3 linked regions of the Homo sapiens genome follow. The protein of the gene in region 2 purifies or fractionates together with the protein of the main gene of each other region. This does not show direct contact. Each region holds a gene or a part of one and is shown on either strand. Other genes may lie near its edges.

Region 1 (3,651 bases), on a different chromosome or scaffold from region 2:
CGTGGACGGCATGCTGGACTGGGAGTTCCAGTGCGGGAGGCCGCGGATGGGGCTGTTCTGCAAGGAGTTGCTTCCTCCGCCGGCTTCCGCACAGCTTCCTGTGCTGGGGAAGCGCTTGTGGCTGCTGCAAAGCCAAGGATGCCACGTGGTCACCGCCAGACAGACAGCACCTTTCCTGGGGGGCTGGCTAGTTCAGGACAATGATCCCAGCATGTGGGGAAAGCTCGCCCGTGACTCCCACCTCGCTTGGTCAGACCTCTACTGTGGTTCTCAGCCTTTCCCCAGCAGGGGGTATGCCCTCCCCCCTCCCAACCTAGGCAATATGAGAGGAAAACCCTGGTCAGCCTTCTCTGTGTCAGGCAGTGTGACGGTCCTGCCCTTACAGTTTTTGTTTTCCAAGAAACAAATATTTACCTGTCCTGGCACCCCCCTTGGAGCTTGGTAGGGTGATTAAAGGAAATGGGAAAAACAGAGAAGCAGACCGAAAATGCCTTCCCCCCCAAAAAAAACCTCCCTACAAAGTCAGCCCGGTAATGAGCTGATAATACACAGCTTGGATTACAGCTGCTTGGCTGGAGAATTCTGCTGGATGAGGGGGTAGAGTTCTGAACCACTCTGCATTTGCTCCGAGTGGACTTTCACTTGCTATTTCAGAATAGCGCTGCCTGAGATTTCCTAATTAATTCCTCTGGAATTTAACAGCATTCAAACCATCTGCCATCACGTTGATTGTGGGCCAAAGCCCCAATTTCTCTGAGTCACAAAAATGTACCTCAACAGTGTCGGCAGCAGAGGGCGCTGTGAGCACGGCCCCGTGAAAGGCAAACCCCACGGGGAGGAACTAGGTTGATGTGGATTTTGTCACCGTGGATGCTACTTGGGACGGCCCTTTGATTCTTCCAGAGCATAGAGGGAGGCCTCATTTGGCCTCATTCACGATGCAGCTCACCTGGAATGGCTGTGAGAGGAGCGCTTCTTGACCTTCTCATAGGGTTCATCTAAAGAGGACTCACTCCACATTTTGGGCTTGATGGGTGACTTGTCATAGTCGTTGCGGTGATAGTGCATCTGTCGGAGTCCCTCCAGGGACTGGGGAGGAGGAGGCCTGTTGTGCGACGGTGGCCGAGGAGGGAGTCCCTTGTGAGGAGAATGTAGGGGGGATATTGTGCTGGTAACCTGAGAGTCTTCTGCACAAAGACAGGAAGAGAGGAACTGAGCCCCGGTCATCCTTCCCACAGGCTGAGACAGAACCCCTACACCCCTCCACCCGCACCTTGGAGCCACACAGCCAAACCCACACCTTCACCCCTGTGATGAGAAACCCTGAAACTCTTCCCCAGTTGCCAAGACAAGTCAAGACGAGTCAAACCAAACCAGGGCAAGCCAAACCTCCACTGCAGGCGGGATTGCATGGGAAGAGATGCGTCACTTTTGATTAGACACGAATGGAGTGAAGTCTGAACGTCATTAAATACCACCAACAAATGACTGCTTCACACTAAACAGCAAAATGTAGTTACTGCTGTAGTGCTAAGTTGTCTTTCAACAGATGCTAAGCATCTGATTCACTGTGGGAGGGTCTGAGTTCTGGGAGAGTTTTGTCTGTTTCATCTGCTGCTAGATCCTCAGCCGACACATAGTAGGTGCTTGATAACCATTGGTTGGAGAAGAAAAAATGAATGAGGGTCTATATGTCCATTGTAAATACCTGCTGGGTGGATCGGGTGTCTACTCTGCTTTTTTCCCCCAGAGCTGTGTTTATTCTCTTTTAATCTCTTCCTCTATATTTTAATTTTGAAACTGCCTTAACTTTTTTAAGGAGATGAGCTACAAAGATTATGTATTAATAAATGATTCCCTGCCTCCAGGAAAGAAATGATCTAACACGTCAGTGCGCTAGAGGACTTTCAGAAAAAGCAAATTCAGTGAGTCTAGGAGGTGCTGTGGGAGAGGCTGGTCTTGAAGGGGCTTGAGCAGTGGGCAGGCAAAGAGGAGGAGGAAGGAAGGGCTTGAACCAAAGTGTGGAGGCCCTGAGGGCAGGGTACCAGCTGCAGGCACATCTGGCCAGGCAGGGGCTGGTGAGGAGGGGCAGGGGGAGTAAGGGCAGAGCTCTGGCCAGCACAGCCGCCTTCTGTGTGCACCATGTGAGCCAAGAGCCCGACTGATGGGGGCCTGGAATTCCGAGTTGAGATTTTGAAAAGCCACAGGAAAACTTTGCGATGTCTTAAGCACGGATGCGTCGGAGTGAAAAATCCTGTTTTAGAACTATTCACCTGGCAGTGTTCTAAAACTAGAAAGGAAGGGAGAGAGACTAGAGAGGGGGATGAATGAGGACTTCAGGCTAGGGCAGGTCAGCATTGAGAAGAGAGAGGAGGGAACGATTCAGGCTTCACAGGGAAGGCAGACATGGGAGGTGGAGGGGAAAAAAGCACAGAAGCAAACCTTACAACCAACCAACTACCATTCACTTGCCCCTAAATCCATTTCCAGCGACTTGTTTCACAGCCTAATTCTCAGTCCCCCAGCCGTGGACACCCACTATGCACCCACTCCTCCTTTGCCCTCAAATCAGTAAAGGAAGAGTCCCCAGAAAGAGACCCTGCAGTGGGACTGTGGCAAAAGGATGTGCCGACACCTGTGAGGAAGTCCAGGGGTCTGCATCTGGAACACGGGGAAGAAGCTGGAATCACGGAATGATATCTCAAAATTACCCCGTGACATTACCTATTGCTCCAGGCACCCCTCTACTACCAAGGAATCTCTCAATTTTTCTTCCCTTTCCAGGGGAGACTGGGATACTCAGAGGCCAACCGCAGGGCTGGGATCTCTGATGCTCAAGCCCCCCATTTCCTTGTAGCCCAATGGCGTCCCCGGCTTGTAATGAAGCAGACAAATATATTCCAATCTGATTTCTAATAGCACAGCCAAGGTGACTGGGTAAATAATCCGCCAGACTTTCCTCACATCAAGAGCAATCATTATTATTATTGCAATTATCATTATTACTATGACTAGTGTGGACCTTTCATGCTTTCCATCTGAACAGCCACTTATCACTGCCTGCCTGAGGTTTCCATACAGGGCAAAAAAATTAACTGCCACTTAATATATTTCCATATAATTAATGTACCCGCCTCCCAGTACGATGGTTAAACATCCACAGGAGTATTCTCACATGGTTCTGGGTTTGGAATTCTTTCTTCCCCGACGTATGGTGGTGATGGGGGTTGGGGGAGGGATCAGTTCTGTTTTTTTAAGAATTTCCCAAGAAAATATCCTAACTGCCAGGTTTTAAGAGTTCAGTGGGAAATAATAAGACAGTTTTCCAGCCTGAGTGTGTATCTACTGGGATATCTCCCCTCTTACTTTCACTACTGTCTTGGGAAGCAACAGAGGGTGTGTTCCATTTCTTCTCACGATCCTTACACTCTCCTAGTGGGTTTCAATCTTTGATTTGTGATCTAAATCAATTTCTACCCTTTTCTTTTAGATACCATGAATACTCAAAAGGAAGCTATGCCTAGTGTGTAGATTCTCTGTCTAGCTAAACGTGGTTTTGGGCCAGGTATGGTGGCTCCTGCCTGTAATCCTCCCAGCACTTTGGGAGGCCGAGGTGGGTGGGTCGCTTGAACCCAGGAGCAACATGGCAAA
Region 2 (3,651 bases):
CTGGAGTGCAATGGCGCAATCTCGGCTCACTGCAACCTCTGCCTCCCAGCTTCAAGCGATTCTCCTGCCTCAGCCTCCTGAGTAGCTGGGATTACAGGCATGCGCCACCACGCCTGGCTAATTTTGTATTTTTAGTAGAGACAGGGTTTCTCTGTGTTGTCCAGGCTGGTCTCAAACTCTTGACCTCAGGTGATCTGCCTGCCTAAGCCTCCCAAAGTGCTGGGATTACAGGCATGAACCACCCCGCCTGGCCTGTTCCCCTTTCTACAGTTTTAAATATCATCCTTTTATTTTGGAGGAACTAAAAAGATTGAAGATTCCCCACCCAGAGGGTCACCACACAAAAAGTACCTGATGGTGTAAGATGATCATATGAAGAATAAGACTCCCAAGTTCTTTAAGGTTTGTGTTAGTCTCCAGAACTGTCCATTTCCCTCATAGGTTTCACAGAGAATTTACCTTGACCAGATCCCACATTGTAAAAGGAAATGTGTGTGATGGATTCATAAAGCATATAACATGACGTGTTCAGACGTCACCTCAGAACTTCCATTGTTTTCTTTTAAACAAACTTTTTATTATTATTATTTTTTAAATAGTTGCAGAGTCTCACTATGTTGCGCAGGCTGGTCTAAAACCATCCTCCCGCCTTGGCCTCTGAAAGTGTTGGGTTGAGTCACTGTGCCAGGCCTAATTAAACTTTTTCTTTCTTTTTTTTTTTTTTTTTTTTTTTTGAGATGGAGTCTCACTGTGTTGCCCAGGCTGGAATGCAGTGACGCAATCTTGGTTCACTGCAACCTCTGCCTGCTGGGTTCAAGTGATTCTTCTGCCTCAGCCTCCCAAGTAGCTGGGATTACAGGCACCTGCCACCACACCCGGCTGATTTTTGTGTTTTTAGTAGAAATGGGGTTTCACCATATTGGCCAGGCTGGTCTTAAACTCCTGACCTCAAGTGATCCACCTGCCTTGGCCTCCCAAAGTGCTGGGATTACAGGCGTGAGCCACCACGCCCGGCCCTAAATAAACTTTTTAAACCTTAATTTTTTTTCCCTTTTTTTTTTTTTTTTTTTTTTTGAGACAGTCTTGTTCTGTCACCCAGGCTGGAGTGTGGTGGCACAGTCTTAGCTCCCTGCAGCTTCCACCTCCTGGGTTCATGCGATTCTCCCTCAGCTTTCTGAGTAGGGGTTACTACAGGCACATGCTATCATGTCTGGCTAATTTTTGTATTTTTAGTAAAGATGGGGTTTCCCCATGTTGGCCAGGCTGGTCTTGAACTCCTGACCTCAATTGATCTGCCTGCTTCAGCCTCTCAAAGTGCTAGGATTACAGGCCTGAGCCACCAAGCCCAGCCTAAACCTTAATATTTGATTTTCAGAATAATGAGAAACATTTCTTGTGGTGTTAACTTTGTGTGTGCGCTGTTTTCAACAGTGCTTCCTCTGTCCCTGTCCCTGTCCCTGCTGCGTAAGTTGGTAACGTTTTGTGAATCAGCCTAGGACAGGTACCACTGTTTTTAGAATTCTTTCTTTTTTTTTTTTTTTGTATTTTTAATAGAGATGGGGTTTCACCATGTTAGCTAGGATGGTCTCGATCTCCTGACCTCGTGATCTGCCCGCCTCAGCCTCCCAAAGTGCTGGGATTACAGGTGTGAGCCACCGCGCCCGGCTTTAGAATTCTTTCTGGAGGGAAATGCATTGTAATTTCCTGGCTACCTTTTAGTATTAAAAAACTTTTGGAACATAGCTCATTGATAATATGCTATAGAAAGAGAGTCTTAGAGTTTCTCTGTCCAATTAAAGACAATTTCAAAAACCAACAAAAAGGCTTTCTCAGTTCCAGTACTCTTTTGTATTCATTAGATAGGGACAGTTTGGTTCAGACTACACCTGTGTGGGATATATCTTTACTGGTTTGTTTATTTATTTAATTTATTTATTTTTATTTATTTATTTTTGAGACGGAGTCTTGCTCTGTTGCCCAGGCTAGAGTGCAGTGGCGCAATCTCGGCTCACTGCCAGCTCTGCCTCCTGGGTTCACACCATCTCCTGCCTCAGCCTCCTGAGTAGCTGGGACTACAGGCACCCGCCACCACACCCGGCTAAATTTTTGTATTTTTAGTAGAGACGGCGTTTCACCATGTTAGCCAGGATGGTCTCGATCTCCTGACCTCGTGATCCATCCGCCTCCCAAAGTGCTGGGATTACAGGCGTGAGCCACCGCGCCCGGCCTTATTTTTTTTTTTTTGTGAGACAGAGTTTCACTCTTGTTGCCCAGGCTAGAGTGCAATGGGGCGATCTCGGCTCACCGCAACCTCCGCCTCCCAGATTCAAGCAATTCTCCTGCCTCAGCCTCCCAAGTAGCTGGGATTACAGGCATGCGTCACCACGCCTGGCTAATTTTGTATTTTTACTGGAGACAGGGTTTCTCCATGTTGGTCAGGCTGGTCTCGAACTCCCGACCTCAGGTGATCCCCCTGCCTAGGCCTCCCAAAGTGCTGGGATTACAGGTGTGAGCCACTGCACCTGGCCTATTGGTTTCTTTTTTTAAAAAAAAAAAAACTGTTTATGGCACTGTGGAGTCCCACCAGACAAACCATTAACTTAAGAAAATACTATTCTGCTCAGGAAAAAGAAAAAAATCGTAAAAATTAAATTTTGCATACATTTTCTTTATAACATGCATACTGTGTGTACTTTTTTTTTTTTTTTTTTTTGAGACAGAGTCTCGCTCTGTTGTCCAGCCTGGAGTCCAGTGGCACGATCTTGGCTTACTGCACCCTCTGCCTCCCGGGTTCAAGCGATTCTCGTGCCTCAGCCTCCTGAGTAGCTGGGACAACAGGCGTGTGCTACCACGCTCAGCTAATTGTTTTGTATTTTTAGTAGAGATGGGGTTTCATCATGTTGGCCAGGCTGGTCTCGAACTCCTGACCTCAAATGATCTGCCCGCCTCAGCCTCCCAAAGTGCCGGGATTACAGGTGTGAGCCATTGCGCCTGGCTTGTGTGTACTGTTGCCAGTATATATTTCTGTGTAATAATGTTCAGGGTTGTAAACAGAAAACCACATATAATGCACTTTAAGGGAGTATTTGCGGGATTTTCCAGAGAGTATGTTCATCCTGTTGCTCTGTAATGGTCATCATTTTGGGGCTAATGACTGCAGTTGCCGTGATTCAATTATGAACTTCCTTTTTAAGCATAATTTCTTTTTTTTGTTGTTGAGACAGAGTTTTACTCTGTTTCCCAGGCTGAAGTGCAGTGGCGTGATCTTAGCTCACTGCAACTTCTGCCTCCTGGGTTCAAGTGATTCTCCTGTCTCAGCTTCCCAAGTAGCTGGGATTACAGGCATGTGCCACCACACCCGGCTGATTTTTGTATTTTTAGTAGAGACGAGGTTTCACCATGTTGGCCAGGCTGATCTCAAACTCCTGACCTCAGGTGATTTGCCCACTTCAGCCTCCCAAAGTGCTGGGATTACAGGTATGAGCCACCGTGCCTGGCCTTTAAGCATAATTTCTATATAAACATTTAAAATGAAAGTTGCTGGAGTCTATCATGTTCATTATAGCAAATGCATGTCTTATTTTTGTTCCTTTCAAGAAGTTAGCTTCAATTAGGGAAGTTGTCAACAGAGAATTTTAAAATAATTTTTAG
Region 3 (3,651 bases), on a different chromosome or scaffold from region 2:
GAGAATGGCGTGAACCCAGGAGGCGGGGCTTGCAGTGAGCCAAAATCACACCACTGCACTCCAGCCTGGGCGACAGAGCAAGACTCAGTCTCAAAAAAAAAAAAAAAAAAAAAAAAAATTAACTTCTAATTGTGTTGTCACCATGCTGGGAAGTAGACATAGTGACTTAAAGCTGTTGTTCTTAGTCCAGGGACCAGCAAACAACAGTCCAGTGGCCAAATCCATCCTGCTGCCTGTTTTTGCGCAGACCGTGAGCTAAGAATGGTTTTTATATTTTTAGGTAGCTGGTGGTGGGGGGATCAAAAGCAATAATATTTTACAACCTGTAAAAATGATATGAAATTTAGCATCCATAGGTCATTTTCTTGGAACACAGCCACACCCATTCTCTTACATATTATCCATGGCTGCTTTTGCACTGAAAGGGCAGAGCTGAGTAGTCGCTCTAGAGACCATCTGGCCCACAAAGCCAAAAGCTATTTAGTATTCTAGACTGTTTACAAAAAAGGAGTTTGCTGAATTATACATCCATCCCTGTTCACCACAAAGATTTGATCATCTAAGGACTGTTTTGAATGTTCAGGTGCCTACATAAACAGCTCTAGTTGCTTTGAGTCTTTTTATTCAGTGTACTCTTTATTAAAAGTCCTTTTTTTCCCTACATATTTGTGACTCAGAAAGTCAGACCATATGTGCTCCCGCTGTTTTAGCGGGTTTTCTTTGTGGTTTAGTGAACCACAAAGACACTCTTCCTATCTTTCTCCCTATTTTCCCTTTCCTTGGGCTTCTAGTAAGTTTTGTATCTGCTTATGACAAGTTTGCCAGAGATGTTGAGAGACTCATCATTTCCTGAATTCTTCTTTTTATCATCACAGAGAAATGCTGTCCACACACAGCAGCCCTTACAAAACTCTGGAGAGGCGGCCCCAGGGAGGACGAAGCATGCCCACCACGCCAGTTCTTACCCGAAACGCCTACAGCAGCAGCCACTTGGAGTAAGAGAGCTTCTTTCTCATTGCTTTAGCTGTCTTGATTTTTGCTTTGAGGTTCTGTCTTGCTTTATTGTGTTTTTTAATCATTTCAAGTGACTTTCTGTAGCAGGACCTTGTTTTATGGTTTTACATTTTCTGCTAACTTATGGTTTCAAATATGTTGGCAAAGAAAATGTATTTGATTTGTTCAAATATACATTAGATTTTTAGTACCTTAATTTCCCCAGTCACATATTACCATTCATTATTCAATGGTGAGGATGAAGTTAGTAACAATAGCAACATTTTGAAATGTTTGTGAGTGCTGTGCTAAATGTTTTATATTCACTGGATTATTTAGTCCCTACAGCAAGCCTTTTGTGAGGTAGATATTATATATTGTTTTCATCCTCATCTTACAAAGGAGGAAGCAAGATTCAGAGAGGTTAAATATCTGGCCTGAGCTCATACAGCTGGGAAATAGCAGTGCCATGACTCAGCCCAGCCACCTCTGACCTCCACTCGAATGTACCATATCTTCATATCCTCTAGGAAGACAGGACCCTCCAAAGACACGTTGGGTTTTTTGTTTTTGTTTTTGTTTTTTTTTCCAGGCTGTGATGCAAACTGTGCATCCTCAGTCTGTGTCTTTCCCTACCCTCAAGGAAGGATTTGGCTTGCGCAACTAACAGAAGCCAGCTCTTTTCTCATTTTGACCATGGTCAAAATGAACCTACATGTGAGCCAACAGATTTGGAGAACAATGGATTCTATTGTGCAGTCAGCTTTGGCAACTCAAAGTCCTATTGTAATTCACGAGCTATTCAGTCATTCAGCATGCTATTCTTTTTTCTTATTTGGGTCCTCCTTTTCTTCTTGGTGTTGAGAAGTTTGCCTTTCTCCTCTTTCAGACCCGAATCTTCATCTCAGCACTGCCGCCAGCGGAGTGGAAGCCTGGAGTCCCAGTCCCACCTGCTCTCCGAGATGGACAGCGATAAGCCATTTTTCTCCCTCTCCAAATCCCAAAGAAGCAGCAGCACAGAAATCCTCGATGACGGGTCTTCTTATACAAGCCAATCAAGCACAGAGTATTACTGTGTGACACCAGTTACCGGCCCCTATTACACCACCCAGACCCTGGACACTCGCACCAGGGGTCGGAGGAGGTCAAAGAAACAGAATGTTTCTACTTCAAATTCAGGAAGCATGCCCAACCTAGCACAAAAGGATAGTTTGAGGAATGGTGTTTACTCAAAGAGTCAGGAGCCACCGTCTTCCAGTTACTACATTGCCGGGTACACACCCTATGCAGAGTGTGACTTTTATTACAGTGGTGGTTATGTCTATGAGAATGACACCGAGGGACAGTATAGTGTCAACCCTTCCTACCGGTCCTCAGCCCACTATGGATATGAGCGCCAGAGGGACTACAGCAGATCCTTTCACGAAGATGAGGTCGACCGGGTACCCCATAACCCATATGCAACTCTCCGGCTGCCAAGGAAGGCTGCTGCAAAATCGGAGCACATCACCAAAAACATCCACAAGGCCTTAGTTGCCGAGCACTTGCGTGGCTGGTACCAGCGGGCCTCTGGGCAGAAGGATCAGGGACACAGCCCGCAGACCAGCTTTGACTCAGACAGGGGATCACAGAGATGCCTGGGGTTTGCGGGGCTGCAAGTACCTTGTTCTCCAAGCAGTCGTGCATCCTCGTACTCTTCAGGTGAGAATACTGTAAAAACACGCAACACCTGGATTTTATTTACATCGTGTTTCCTGCCCACCTAAAACCGCCTCACGGATCATGAGACCAGTACTCAGGGTCAAAAGTGGGGCAACCATTCGGTGGAACCCCACAATAAGAATTTCCAACTTAAAAACAGTTCTTTCCAGCTCTCCAAAGAACTCAGTACACATGAGTCTAATGAAGCAAATTGTAGATTCAAATCCAGCAAACATTGATTGAGCATTTACTCTCTGTGCTGCCCTGTTTTAGGGTTTTTTTTTGTTTTTTGTTTTTTGTTTTTGAGAAGGAGTCTCACTCTGTCGCCTAGGCTGGGATGTGTTAGGGGTTTCACTTGCTTTGTCTTTTTAGGATTTACGTTGACAGGCACATCTCTTAAATGTGTTCACGTCATTGAGGCTTGATATTTTAAAAGAATAAACCCTCAGGTAAGCAGAAAACATTAGAATTATACATCCCTCCTGGTTCACCACCAAGATTGATCATCTAAGGACTGCTTTGAATGCAAGCCTGGGATTATGCAGGTACTTAGGCAAGTGCCTGCATAAGGCTCGTAAGAATCCTTATAGGAGCTGGCATTGATTAAGCACTGTTCTAAGTAATTTGCTTTTTTTTTTTTTTTTTTTTTTTTGTAGAAACAAGGAGGCTTAGGTTGGGTCTTGCTATGTTGCCCAGGCTGGTCTCAAACTCCTGGCCTCAAGCAACCCTCCTGCCTTGGCCTCCCAAAGTGTTGGGATTACATGTGAGAGCCGCAGTGCCTGGCCATGCATATTGTAATTCAGTATTCATATATACCTATGTTGTGGTTGACTTAAGGGATTTTCAAAGATAATTTTGATTAGAGATGTTTCCTTTATACTCTTGATGTTGACTTTGGCCCCTAACTCTGCTAACATTTGTGGAGGACTTCCTGCCTACTCCCAGTTGTACTAGGTA

The links.
Region 1: the proteins of CYTH1 (region 2) and FRMD4A purify together in Homo sapiens (affinity purification with mass spectrometry; one large-scale study listed by BioGRID and IntAct). This does not show direct contact.
Region 3: the proteins of CYTH1 (region 2) and FRMD4B purify together in Homo sapiens (affinity purification with mass spectrometry; one large-scale study listed by BioGRID and IntAct). This does not show direct contact.

What each region holds. Positions count from the first base shown.
Region 1 is NC_000010.11:13,659,367-13,663,017, forward strand, and holds part of FRMD4A (FERM domain-containing protein 4A), read right to left. Parts: intron 1,188-3,651; coding exon 950-1,187; intron 125-949; coding exon 1-124. UniProt on the Homo sapiens protein: Scaffolding protein that regulates epithelial cell polarity by connecting ARF6 activation with the PAR3 complex. Plays a redundant role with FRMD4B in epithelial polarization. May regulate MAPT secretion by activating ARF6-signaling.
Region 2 is NC_000017.11:78,775,721-78,779,371, reverse strand, and holds part of CYTH1 (cytohesin-1), read left to right. Parts: intron 1-3,651. UniProt on the Homo sapiens protein: Promotes guanine-nucleotide exchange on ARF1, ARF5 and ARF6. Promotes the activation of ARF factors through replacement of GDP with GTP.
Region 3 is NC_000003.12:69,179,942-69,183,592, reverse strand, and holds part of FRMD4B (FERM domain-containing protein 4B), read left to right. Parts: intron 1-875; coding exon 876-995; intron 996-1,882; coding exon 1,883-2,694; intron 2,695-3,651. UniProt on the Homo sapiens protein: Member of GRP1 signaling complexes that are acutely recruited to plasma membrane ruffles in response to insulin receptor signaling.